Linked DNA regions of Homo sapiens. The protein of the gene in region 1 interacts with the protein of each later gene in a biochemical or structural test. Each region holds a gene or a part of one and is shown on either strand. Other genes may lie near its edges. The genes, in order: KLF13 and SREBF2.

Evidence for each region.
Region 2: the proteins of KLF13 (region 1) and SREBF2 form a complex in vitro, tested with the Homo sapiens proteins (one study listed by BioGRID).

Annotation. Positions count from the first base shown.
Region 1 is NC_000015.10:31,371,835-31,378,672, reverse strand, and holds the end of KLF13 (Krueppel-like factor 13), read right to left. Parts: intron 6,664-6,838; coding exon 6,374-6,663; 3' UTR 774-6,373; downstream 1-773. UniProt on the Homo sapiens protein: Transcription factor that activates expression from GC-rich minimal promoter regions, including genes in the cells of the erythroid lineage. Represses transcription by binding to the BTE site, a GC-rich DNA element, in competition with the activator SP1.
Region 2 is NC_000022.11:41,863,974-41,871,246, reverse strand, and holds part of SREBF2 (sterol regulatory element-binding protein 2), read right to left. Parts: intron 4,417-7,273; coding exon 3,967-4,416; intron 2,637-3,966; coding exon 2,455-2,636; intron 359-2,454; coding exon 212-358; intron 1-211.

The DNA.
Region 1 (6,838 bases):
CCAGATGCAGCGCTGGTCTACCCCTGGGTGAGGCTGAGATGTGGCTGCACCAGCACCTCCCTTCTACATGCTGTGGCTAGAACAGGGTTCGGGCCAGACCTCCACCCCAGCAGCCACCTCCTCCACTAGCTGCCAGCTTCCCACTGCCTCCGATGAGGACATCATCTGCCCTGGGGACAGCCAGGGGCAGTTAGTGTTCATTGGGGACTTAAACGGGCTCTGCTATCAACACCTGCCTTCCTACTCCCCAGACTCCCAGTGTCCTGGGACTCGTCCTCGCTGGAGCACACTTTGGGGTCAGTGCCCGTGGTAGGTTGTAGGAACTTTGGTAGCTAGAAACAGGGGAGTTTTCTAGACTCTAGGCTGAGGGGTGAGGCAAGCAGCGCATCTGGGGTTGAAAGAAGCGGTGGCTGCTGCCCAGGAAAAGGAAGTCCAGGTGTTTTGGGGGGACTTTGAGGGAAAGGTGCTGTGCCCTTTGAGGGAATCTGCCATCACCACATCCCGTTCTCCTCCGTGCTCTTTCGGATGGACGGAGGGGTGGGAATGTGAAGAGCTGAAATAGCTTCCCATGGGCAGGAGGGGAAGCCAGAAGAGCACCCACTGTGTGCAAGAGCTCTTCTGCAAAGCCTTCCTTCCAAAATAGGACCCGCCAAGTTCCAGGCAAGCTTCAGTCCCTCAGTCAATTGCAACTGCTTGAGTTTGTGCATTTCAGTTCCCCTCCCCTCCCGGAGCCTCTGCAAGACATGCTCTTCAAAGAAACTAGCTCCAGCAAATAAAATAATGAATCATAAATTTTATTTCAAAATGTAAACGTCACTAAACATGCATACACGTTAAAACAATAAAATTTACAATTTCGTTAATTTTTCTTTTTGCATAGGACATCATTACAATATAGAATCTATGCCATACAAAATACATACAAAGTTTTATCCGAGCAAGCCAAGGCCAGACTGGGAACTGTACAACTGTAATACTTCACTGTAGTGATCCAGGAAAGATGAAACGTGGCCTTCGGAATTATGGTGGGTGCTGGTTAAAAAAAAGTTCCTACAGAAAAGAAAAACATGAGCTCCATGGAAATGGTCTTGGACCCTTGGATTCTGCCTTGGGCTTTTGGCAAATGATTCCAGAGAAGCTCCACCAATGGCTTTGGATGGGAAGGGGTTGCCTGTGCGGGCCTGGGGCAGCTGAGACCCGGAAGCATGCACCCAACACATGCACACAAGCAATTCCCAGTCACCAAGGAACCACCGAAAGCCCCAAACCCGACAATGACAATGCATAGTTGCTCAGTAGTGCCTCCTTTCTGCTGAGGCTTTCCAGCCCCAGAGGCCTCAGCACTAGGCACCAGGGGCCTCTCTAGGATGAGGCCAGGGAGCAAAGTCTCCCACTCACACACCCAGAGGCAGGCACCTGGAGCCGGCACAGACGCTGGGGCTAATGAGCCCACGTGGTGTCTAGAGCCACATGGGAGGTGGCCTCTTGCTCCTCTCAGGGCAGCCAGGTACAAGGGCTCCTCTGCTGAGTGCATGGCCTGGCAGGCATTCGGCTCACACACCTGGTTTCCAAATAAGCACGCACTGCGACCTGTCCACGGGCCCTCTAGAAGAGGCCAGGGAAAACAGGACCCTGAGGCCTTAAGAAAGCTGTTCCCGTGCTCCCACCCCCACCCCCATGACTTCCTGCCTCCACCCCCCACCCCCCTCCCCGGAATGTGTGACTTGTAGGGTAGGGGACGCTACTTCTCTCCCATCCAGTTCATTTTTAAATAAAAGTAGTAAAGTTTTAAAGCTGTATGAGAAAGAGAGAGGCAGGGCAGGGCCAGGTGGCCGCACTGCAAGTCTGAAATCTTCATGGGGGTCAGTAGAAACCAAGCGCGACCCCTCTTCCCTCATGGACACCGGGCTCCCGTCTCCTGCTGAATTCAACTCTTCTGATGCTGAGGGACAGGACAGCAGGCAGGAGGCGGCGCCTCGCCCTAAAGGGTGCTCAGGCGTGTATCAGTAGTAAGGTGGACTATGCATCCAAGTTCTGGTACAAAGGTCTCCGGAATGTGTCTCAGACAAGCCTTCAGAGCCTCAGAATCAGGAAAATTAGTAATAGGACCTGGTTCTTCCTGGGGTAATCCTGATTTCAAAAACCATCAGCCCACGCCTCAGATTTTAGCTTTGGAAAATATGGTGACCAGAATTGTATATGGAAACAGTCAGCAAAAGATGTGGATAACCTACCAAGCGTTTCTTACTGGTTGTGATGTGACCAACACATTACACCCTTTAAACCTCTAGCACTGTGTCTTTGACTAAATGACCTTTTTTAAATGGGGGAAAGAAAATCAGTGACACCTGTCAGAAGTCAAAATAGGTAGCCCTGTACACACAGCCACAACCAGAAGCGGAGAAACAAGGCCACACTATTGCTCAGATCACATCTTCCTGTTGGGTGGCACCCCTGCCCAGCTGAGATCCTGAATGGGTCCCGAGGGAGTGCCGGGACCCTGTGCAGTCCATCTTAGCACCTGCTTCTGGCAAGAAAGAGGCTGGTCTTCTGGACACACCGGGTGGGGAGACAGAACACTTGAGGTCAAGTCCTGAGGCAGAGTGGCCAGCCCTCTCTGCCCATCCCCACCTCTGAATCACCCCTCACTGGTCTGAGCTGTGTTCAGGGTGCTGCAAGGACTGGGATCGCCAGTGCCTCAGATGTTTGTACCCGGAGGCTGCACCATGGCGAATCCTGCACCTGCCTCGGTGTGGGGCCTGGGAATAAAGTCAGGGTTAGGAGTGAGGCGATCTTGCACTCGAGTGTCGTGGGTGGGGGTGCAGCAGGATGCAGGTAGGGCACCTCCAGGACCATGTTCCCATCCAGGACATCTCTGCCCATTCCTATGCAGCATCCTGCAGGACAGGACCCCAGGGCTCTTTAAGGAAAGGGCTGTGTCCGTCTGTTTTCCTGTATGGCTGTAGGATCCAGTAGGCATTTGGGGAGCTGACAACCGTTCCCCTAATATGGCTGATGTAAAGAGGGGCTTCCTTGTCTGGGACAGGAGCAACACCAGCCCCTTGATGGCTGAGCCCCAGATCAATTTTAGGCCTTTTATAGGGGAACTCTCCCTTCACTCAGGCAACCTTCACTTTGACATCTCTGCCCCTATGGACCACGAGAACTGAAGTCCCAAAATAAGGGTTTGAGTTTTCACTATTATTTCTATGAGTCCTATGGGTTCCTCAACCCCACCAAAACTGGCAAGCATGGCCATAAACCACAAAAATGGAAGACCCTGAAATAGACGCAGTCTGGGAAAACATTCTGCATGTTTGAAGAAAATGGAGGCTGTTTCAGGAGGGTCCGCCTTGTGTGCCCGCCTCAGTGGAGGCAGCGTTCCAAGGCCCACCACCCTCTTCCACAGGAGTCCCTCACTTCATGATGAAATGGAAACCTGCCCTTGAGGACCCCTGTGAACCGTGCCTGAGATTCATGGGTTTCTCCCTGCCCTTCAAGCGAGATGAGTTTAAGCCGCAGATGATTCAGGAGGGTCTGGCCAGGAGTACCCAGGAGGATTTCTCTCCTGGTGCCCTACCCCCATTTCCCAGTCCAGGCCGGGGCCTAAGGACCGCACCCTGCCATTAAACGAGAACCACTTTGGGAATGAAGACACGCTCTTATGCCAAAAATAGCCAACGCCTGCATATTTCTGTTTTAAGGCAATGTTACCCTTCCATCTATCAGACGGAACAGCCCTGGGTCATTTAAAGGAAAAATTAAATTAAGTGCTCTCTTTGGAAACAGCCAACACCCGCTTCCCTCCCCCACCCCCCGCCCTGCTCTAAAACAAACCAGCTCTTCTTTTTATTCCAAGATGACTAGGTTTAGAGTCCTATCTTTTCCTTCCTATGTGCAGACAGATGTGGAGCTAGAAAATCTCCTTCCGTGACACCCTGGGCAGATCACAAGGACGTCTGACCCCTCCCTGGAGAGCACTTTGCCAGCCTCCCAGGGACGGGCCACTCCCTCTCCCTGCCTTGGGGAACGGTGGACGGTGAGTGCACCAAAGGACTTTGGAATAAAATTCCTGAACCTGGAATGTGAATTCCTGAGACATAAAATGTATTCAGAGTGTGGCTTTCTCTGCCTCACACGAAAACAACTTTGGGAGGGACCTCACTTTGGAACTGGGCATGAAGATCTTTGCACCACAAGCACCCAGGGCTCTCTTCTGTCAAGGTCCCTACCAAATATTCCACTCTCTCTCCCAGACCCAATGCAAGCAGGGAGGTCAGAGAGCCCCAACACAGCATGGCAGCCAGAGGGACCAGCTCCGCATCCAACCAGAGTGGAGGTGACCCTCTCCCTGCCAGTTCCCACCACAGCAGAAACAATGCCACTGCCCAATTTAGGGTCCATCGGTCTACCTAGAAGTCACCACCACGCTGTCGGCCAATCCCAGCTGACACACAGTGGTAAGAAGCGGGCACCTGACGGCATACTGTGCCTGAGCAGCTGCTGTGGACAGAGCGTACCTGTCCACTCTGGAGCCAGCCAAAACAGTGACCATCAGCTGTGGGCAGTGGCTAGGCCTGGGTCCTGGGTTTGTGCTGCACCCCATAGCATGGCAGGGCTGAGTAGAAGCAGGATGGCCACAACCAAGGCACGCTAGGCCCAGGAAGCCCATCTGTGGCCCTCTGAGGTCCCAGGGCCGTTCCTTTGCATCAAAATAGGTACTCATCAAAACAGGTATCTCTGGCAAGATACCCTGAGTCCACCCCAATCCCCCCACCCCCCCCAACACACGCGTGTGTGCTCACGCGCGCACACACCCACACGCACGCACACACTCTGTCCTGGGCCCTTGTATTTACAGGCCTCAACTCTCAGGAGGAAGGGAAGGTGATACCTGGGCCACAAGCCTGGGTCAACACTCCAGCCATCTGCAGAGGAGTTTGCTGGACCACGGCTTGACTGACCCCCGCCCAGGGCTCGAATCCCAGCCCAGGACCCAGCTCTCTGCTCCTCCTCTCCTGCCAGGAGAAGGCCGGTGATGGGGCACTGGAGCAGCCCCACCAGCTGGGTGTGGCCTGGAGCCTCCAGGCAGGACAAGGAGAAGCAGGAGGAAAAGGGAGGAGGAGTCCAGGGGAAACGGAGAGGCTGGAGGTTTGCTAAGTCTGAGTTGGGGACATGGTGGGTCTGAGAAAAGTGTTGCCCGCAACTTTCTATCTGGCATTCCCTGCGGAGGAAATAGAATGCGCGCTCTCCGACAGCATTTCCTGTAACATCCGCGCCACTCCTGAAAAGGTCCAAGTCACAATGTTCCGGTCTCTTGCTACAGAATGGTCTCTGTGAAGCATGGTGCGCTGCCACATGCACAGCCGCTCACACAGACCCTCTGATGAGGAGGCCCCATGACCTGCCCACTGTTTCCAACAAAAGTGCCCGTGCGGGCAAACTCGGAACTGGATGTGCCACCAGGAATTTCTAACATCTTTTTAGAAGACCAGAATTCCCCATCAGAGGCCCAGGTATAGTAGTGACAGGGTCCTGCATGCCTTCTGCTGGGACACGGAGAAGCGGAGTCCTGGCAGGTGTGACCCCGGCCCCTGCCTCGGAGGTCGGACGGTGCAGTGCTACGCTCAGCCAGGGCTGGCATCTCTGCTTCCAGTGCTCCCTAGCGCCGTAGGAGAGGGCTCCTGAAGGCGGGGTGTGAGGCAGGCAGGGTGCAGAGGGCTGAAGGCCCCCTCCACTATCCCCAAGGTGGAGTGCTCCTCCAGCCAGGGACAGCTTTAAGGCATCCCTCTGCAGGGGCCTGTCTCAGAATCAGCTGCGTTGCAAGCCCAGCCAGGCTCGTTGGGCAGAGGCCAGAGACTGGGTTGGGGGCTGGGCAGGAAGAGGTCAGGCCAGCTGCTTAGGAATCTGCCCTGGAGGCACAAACGTCAGTGAGCACATCTGCTCCCAACAGACCCACAGGCTGGCCAGCCAGCCAGACGCTGAGCTCCACCAGACTGGCTGGCCTGCTCTGTCCCCAGCGTGTTCCCGAACCTAACAGAAAACTCCAGAGTGCAAATCTATGTACAGAGTAAGGCGGCAGGAAGGGGTGTCCTCACTGACCTCGTGAAACGTGTCCATCCCTGAGAAAGGGGGTTCAACAACGCTGAATCTCAACTTTGTGGGTGTATCTATTGTGCAATTTGGTGGGTGGTGTTTTTTGAAATTTTTGTGTTTTTTTTGTTTTTTTAACAAATTTACTTTGACACCTGAGGTGAAAAAAATTGTTTTTTCGTGGACTTTGCATCAAGTTCTCTCTCTTCTTTCTTATTACAAAAGGAAAGGCCAGGGACTCACGAGGGGGTGGGAGCGGCTGCTCATGGCTGTGGCGGGCTCAGGGCGAGCTGGCCGGGCTGATGGTGGGGCTGCTGGCGTCGGAGCGGCTGTAGTCGCTGAGGGAGCCGGTCCGCGAGCCCCCGCCGCGCCGCTGCAGCATTCCCGGGTGGAAGTTGGCGTGGCGGCGCGCGTGCTTGGTCAGGTGGTCGCTGCGCATGAAGCGCTTCTCGCAGATGGGGCAGCTGAACTTCTTCTCGCCCGTGTGTGTGCGGTAGTGCCGCGCCAGCTCGTCGGAGCGCGCGAACTTCTTGTTGCAGTCCTGCCAGCTGCAGGCGAAGGGCCTCTCACCTGTGGGCACAGGGGCAGAGCATCAGTATCCGCACCTGGCCCCGCCTTCACACCCTCTCTGGGGAAGGGCCCGCAACACCCAACACCCTGGTCTCTCAACACCCCTCCCACATGCCCCACCTCCAAGAGCTTCTGTGACAAATCCATCAAGGCAGAGATGAAGGTGGGCCCCTGC
Region 2 (7,273 bases), on another chromosome or scaffold:
TTGTAGACTCCAGTACTCCCACATCGAACACACATTGCTAATACTTTTTCGAGCGAAAAACAACTAAGAGGGGTGACATTTACAATTTGACTGATTTGTGCTATAGACCCTCCCATACCTACTCAGCATATAGAGATTTAACATCTCTGAAGACTAACACCTCCAGGAATAAAGGGGGAGGGAGGAGGGTGGGGGAGAAGGCAGCTCTTACTGGTACTTGAAGGGCAGCCGTCTGGATAGGGGTGGTGAGGGCGGTGAGGGCCGGGTTCTGGACCGCAGCCATAACAGGGCTGCCATCTGTCTTCAGTGTGGTCAAAACAAGGGAATCTGTCTTGATGATCTGAGGCTGGACCAGGACCTGGATGAAGAAGGAAGAAAAGTAAAAGGATGATAGCATTATCCTTCTGTTATGCATTCCTTTCTTACTGCATAGACCTTCCAAGAAAGAATGAGAAATGATATAATTTTTATGAAATTGAGAATAAAAAAATGAACAGGAAATTTCATAGAGGCCATTTCAAAAGCCGGCTATTTTGTACAGCCTGAATACCGGGTTCAGGTGGAGAAAGAGGGGCTAGCTAATGAGGGTCCTGGCTTTTTTTTTTTTTTTTTTTTTTTGCTGAGACAGGGTTGCTCTCTGTTGCCCAGGCTGGAGTGCAGTGGTGCAATCTCAGCTCACTGCAGCCTTGACCTCCCGGGCTCAAGTGATCCTGCTGCCTCAGCCTCCTGAGTAGCTGGGACTACAGGTGTGTGCCACCATGCCTGGCTAATTGTTTGTATTTTTTTGTAGAGACAGGGTTTCACCATGTTGCCCAGGCTGGTCCTGAACTTTTGGGTTCAAGAAATCCACCTGCCTCAGCCTCCCAAAGTGCTGAGATTACAGGCGTGAGCCATGGTGCTCAGCCAGGTCATGGGTTTTTAGGTTGAAAGACTTTCAAGAGGGTGGTGCCAGTGGCCCAGCAGGAGCAGAGCAGAGATGGGTAGGGTGGATGGCAGAGAGGAGAGAAAAGACTCAGGAAAGCCAGACACATGGCTGAGAAGCAAAAATAATAAACCTGATTTTTTTAAGATAAATTGTTAGTAAGAAAATATAGGCCAGATGTGGTGGCTCATGCTTGTAATCCCAGCACTTTGGGAGACCAAGGCAGGTGGATCATGAGGTCAGGAGTTTGAGACCAGCCTAACCAACATGGTGAAACCCTGTCTCTACTAAAAATACAAAAATTAGCTGGGCGTGATGGCGCGTGCCTGGAATCCCAGCTACTCGGGAGGCCGAGGCAGGAGAATTGCTTGAACCCAGGAGGCTGAGGTTGCACAGTGAGCCGAGATCGTGCCACTGCACTCCAGCCTGGGCGACAGAGCAAGACTCTCAAAAAAAAAAAAAGAAAAAAGAGGATATAGTCCACGATGATATATAACATAAAGACGTTTTTTGTGATTATAAAAATAATACACGTCCCCCAGCTGGGCACAGTGGCTCCCACCTGTAGTCTCAGCACTTTGGGAGGCCGAGATCGATGCACTGTTTGAGGCCAGGAGTTCAAAACCAGCCTGGCCAACCTGGAGAAACCCCATCTCTACTAAAAATACAAAAAACTAGCCAGGTGCAGTGGCAGGTGCTTGTAATCCCAGCTACTTGGGAGGCTGAGGCAGGAGAATCGCTTGAACCTGGTAGGCGGGGGTTGCAGGGAGCCAAGATCACGCCACTGCACTCCAACCTGGGCAACAAGAGCAAAACTGTCTCCAAAAAAAAAAAATTAAAAAAAAGATTAATAATACATGCCCCCCCTCCCCCCAACCCAATATATGTTCAGGATCCACAGCAGAAAATATGGAGAACAGAAAACTATGAAAGCCAAGGGCAGTGGCTCACGTCTGTAATCCCAGCACTTTGGGAGGCCGAGGCGGGTGGATCACAAGGTCAGAAGTTCAAGCCAGCCTGGCCAACATCCCGTCTCTACTAAAAATATAAAAATTAGCCGGGTGTGGTGGCACATGCCTGTAGTCCCAGCTACTCGGGAGGCTGAAGCAGCAGAACTGCTTGAACCCGGGAGGCGGAGGTTATAGTGAGCTGAGACCACACCACTCCACTCCAGCTTGGGCAACAGAATGAGACTCCGTCTCAAAACAACAACAACAACAAAAAAACACAACACAAAACTATGAAAAAGAAAATTATCTGGGAAATACCAATTTAGCACATTTCTTTCCAGTTTTATGCCCATTACATGTGTACGTAAGTGACTGCACCAGCCTTTCCTGAGTGCCAGTGTCTATCTACAGATATGGACTCAGCCAGGTCACTATACGCTGCTCACAGGTGCATCCTGGCGCCCTACAAGCTGCTTTGTGTACACTCTGGTTGGTCCTTCTTAGTATGTAGACCACATCTTCAACCAAGGACCAGTTAACAGCCCCAACCAGTGCCTCCCTGAATCCTTTCCAGCCACTTACCGGGACCTGCTGCACCTGTGGCGCAGCAACTGTCTGCACCGTAGCCGGGGCAAGGGTCTGCAGCGTGCCATTGGCCGTTTGTGTCAGCACCCGCTGGGCCTGTACTGTCTGCACCTGCTGCTGAATGGTGACCGGCTGTACCTGGGAGGATGTCACCAGGCTTTGGACTTGAGGCTGAAGGACTTGGGAGAAGAGGAGAAAGAAGGCACAGAGATGAGGAATGCATTCTGTCACTGCAGCTGCAGCAGAAACCTGAGGATGGAGTATCTCATAATGATTCCAACTCCCCACCTACTGCTGAAGATGATGTGCACAGCCATTTACAAGGTGGCTTAGACAACAAGAACATCCCATAAGGGCTGCATCAATTTCTGAGGGAACGAGTACAAATTGTTTTATTACTCTGGGTGCCAGGGTGGGGGAAAGGGAAGCTAATCAGCAAATGACTGCACCCAGCAAGGGAGTTAACAGATGTTGAGAATCAACAACTCCCTGGGGCTTCATTTTCTTCCATCCTTTCTGGACGGCAAGTGCACTTTGGGAGGACTGTCTCAGCTTTTTGCCTTTACATTCCCCCACCTGTCCCAATTCTTGAACTCCATTGAAGAACTATAAGATTCTTTGAAATTCAAAGCAATACTAATCTTACCCTGGGCTCCCCACAGAGTCAGAGGGAAATATGATGAAAAGGCACTGGGATGCAGCACATCACAGAAAGAACAGGCCCCTTTCAGTCATCCATTCCCTCAACACATACTAAGGGCCCAGCATGAGGCTTGCTACTTGAAGCTGCTGCACCTATATTAAAAGTCATATTCATCACCATAGTGGATGCTCAGATGTTTGCTGAATGAATAGTTCTCAACTGTGGCAGCTGAGATCTGGCTGCCGCCTAGCCAATTTCAAGCCTTATTCAAGTCTCCACCACTAGTTATCAGAATGGCCCTGTGTCTACTATGCTTGCTGGATTTTTTTTTTTCTTTTTAAGATGGGAGTCTCGCTCTGTTGCCTAGGCTGGAGTGCAGTGGCACGATCTCTGCTCACTGCAAGCTCTGCCTCCCGGGTTCACGCCATTCTCCTGCCTCAGCCTCCCGAGTAGCTGGGACTACAGGCGCCCGCCACCATGCCCGGCTAATTTTTTCTATTTTTTAGTAGAGATGGGGTTTCACTGAGTTAGCCAGGATGGTCTCAATCTCCTGACCTCGTGATCCGCCCGCCTTGGCCTCCCAAAGTGCTGGGATTACAGGCGTGAGCCACCGCGCCCGGCCGCTTGCTGGATTTTTTAACCAAGTATTTTTGAATTAGGCGCAATAGATATTAAGGTATTTGAAGCTGCAGAATGTGACATGCTCCTGTACCAGTTCTTATTGCCAGTTACCAGAACCTCATTCAGACAGGACCATATTGATATACCTGCCATTCCTGAAGACGACAGAAATATTTACAGTGTCTGCAAACTGGCACATAAACATTGGAACCAACCAACCACTACCATTCTAACTTCTGAATCACCTTGAAAGCTAGTAGCTGCATTCTGGTATATCAAAGGCTGCTGGATGATCCTCGTCTGCGGAGTGGTGCTGAATGTTGGCGTGATCATTACCGTCTGTTGTTGCAGCTGAGTTTGAGGTTGAGGCTGGGGCTGGGGGCGGGGCTGAAGAATAGGAGTTGCCCTGGGTGTGGTGGGAACTGAGGTGGGAGAAACCTTGACTTGCAGAGTTGGAGCCTGTGGGGAGGCCGCCGAGGGAGAGAAGGAAGGTAATGTGACCTGGGTGAATGACCGTTGCACTGAAGGGTCCACAGCTCCGCTGCTGCTGCCCCTGCCATTGCTGCTGCTGCTGCTGCTGCCACTGCTGCCGCTGCTGCTACCACTACCACCACTGCCAGGAAAGGAGCTACACAGCTGTTCTGAAAACAAGTCAGGGAACTCTCCCACTTGATTACTGACAAATTGCAGCATCTCTGTGAACAAAAGAAAAGGAGTAATTTTATTGCTATCCAAAAAGTGAACTTTCAAACTTGCTTAAGAAACTAAGGCATGAAAACTCAATGACTTTCCTAAGACCATGGCAGAAATGGGTCAGGAAACCCTTACCTCTTTCTTGTGGGGATCATCTGGGCCAAGATGGCTGCCCAAGGTCCCAGGACAACAGGACAGGACTTTATCTGTTTGATGTTCTTTTCCCTCCTCACACTCACCTCCAGGCCCTTTCTCTCATTTTCTTTCTTTTTTCTTTTTGAGACGGAGTCTTCCTCTATCGCCCACGCTGGATGGAGTGCAGTGGCGCGAACTTGTCTTACTTCAACCTCTGCCTCCTGGGTTCAAGCGATTCTCCCGCCTCAGCCTCCTGAGTAGCTGGGACTATAGGTGCACGGCACCATGCCCGGCTAATTTTTGTAATTTTAGTAGAGACAGGGTTTCACCATATTGATAGGTGGGTCTCGAACTCCTGACCTTAGGTGATCCACCCACCTCAGCCTCCCAAAGTGCTGGGATTACAGGTGTGAGCCACCGCACCCAGCCTCTCTCTTTTTCCTGATTGTTTTGATCATAAAAGGAACTACCTTTGTACTAGATGGGTGCTGTTCTGTCGAAGGTACCAAGGGTCCTTTTTTACAGCTGGAAACACTGAGGCAGCGAGTAGGGAGTCACTGTCCTAAGGCTGTGAGTATAGCGGTTTTGGCTTGTGAGGCCACCTCTAATCCTAGCACTGCAGACCCAAACTTGCTCTAACCTCTTTCCTCCTCACCACAGGGAGGCTCTAGGCCTCCTCTCCAAGCTGAGTAAAACCCTGGGCACTGTTGGTATTCTTGGAAACACTCAGGGACAACCAAGTTGATGGCCCCTAAGTCATGGAGCTTCAGGGATGCAAAGAATGGAAAAACCATATATGAAGTCCAGGAGAGGAAAGTAACTTGGCCAAGGTCACACAGCTTGTCAGGGTACAGCTAGGATTAGAACCAGTTCTCTGCCTCCCAGCTTTGTGTTCTTCTACCACAACACAGTGCAGGTATGTTGCCAGGCCAGGACACAGCAAGCCTGCCCCACCCTGAACTCCGTGCTTCCCAGGGCCCATGCTAGCCCTTGTCTGGTTGTGCCCCTTTTCTCTGGGCAAGGAGTCTTGGGTCCAAAGGGATTTGTCCACCTGGAGACCTCGCTTCCCTTTCTAGATCATGTTCCAAGTAGCTGGGACCCTTAAATTCCCAGCCCAAAGGGTCTCAAGCCTACTTCCAGGGCCTCTTCCCTGGTCAATCTTCCCAAAGGCTTTCCAAAACCCAACTTAACCCACAACTACCCCATCATCTCTCACGACTCCCTTCTTTTTCATATGACTGGTCCCTATAGAAGTCAGGAGCCTCAGCTTTGTCCCAGATAGTTTCAGACCTACAATTCTCTACATTGTCCATATTCTTTTCTCTTTTCTCTCTCCAATACGTTCCCAAGAAGCTACTGCTTGTTCTTGAACTATGGCCCCTCCTTTCCAAACCTTCAAGGCCATGTGATGCTCTGATTTAGACACCAAAACAACAAAAACCACCACACCACCACTATAAAAAAATAAAAGGAACCATCTCCATTCCCCCAAACCTCCACCAAGATGTCCTTCTCAGGTCTCTGATGCTGTGTGTGTGTGTGTGTGTGTGTTTTTTGGGGGATGTGGGGGCCTGGAGCCTGGGGTATATTTGTATATCTGACAAACAGAAAGCTGCTGAGACCGGTTGTGGTGGCTCATGCCTGTAATCCCAGTGCATTGTGAGGCCAAGGTGGGAGGGTCACTTGAGGTCAGGAGTTTGAGAACAGCCTGGGCAACACAGCGAGACTCTGTCTCTCTTTTTTTTGAGATAGGGTATTGCTCTGTCACCCAGGTTGGAGTGCAGTGTTGCAATTTCAGCTCACTGCAGCCTCCACCTCCCAGGCTCAAGCGATCCTTCCACATCAGCCTCCTGAGTAGCTGGGACCACAGGTGTGCGCCAACCATGCCCGGCTAATTTTTGTATTTTCTGTAGAGACGAGATTTCACCATGTTGCCCAGGCTGGTCTCAAACTCCTGAAAAGCAACCTCTCGGTTTGGCCTCCCAAAGTGCTGGGACTACAGGCATGAGCCAGGGCACCTAGCCAGATCCCTTCTCTGAACACAAAACAAACAAACAAAAAAACACAAAGATTTTTTGGGCCGGGCGCGGTGACTCACGCCTATAATCCCAGCACTTTGGGAGGCCAAGGCGTGCGGATCACAAGGTCAGGAGATCGAGACCATCCTGGCTAACACGGTGAAACCCCGTCTCTACTAAAAATACAAAAAATTAGCTGGGCGTGGTGGTGGGCGCCTGTAGTCCAAGCTACTCGGGAGGCTGAGTCAGGAGAATGGAGTGAACCCGGGAGGCAGAGCTTGCAGTGAGCAGAGATCGTGCCACTGCACTCCAGCCTGGGCAACAGAGCGAGACTCAGTCTCAAAAAAAAAAAAAAATATATATATATATACATATATATATATATTTTGATATTTTGTGTGTGTGTGTGTGTGTGTGTATATATATATATATATATATATATATATATATATATATGCTTGCAGAAGGATAGGAAAAATAAATCATAATTAAATGTAAATAGGCCAGGGGTGGTGGCTTATGCTTGTAATCCCAGCACTTTGGGAGGCCAAGGCAGGTGGATCACCTGAAGTCAGGAGTTCGAGACCAGCCTGACAAACATGGTGAAAACCCCTGTCTACTACAAAAATTAGCCAGGCATGGTGGTGGGTGCCTGTAATCCCAGCTACTCGGGAGGCTGAGGCAGGAGAATCGCTTGAACCCAGGA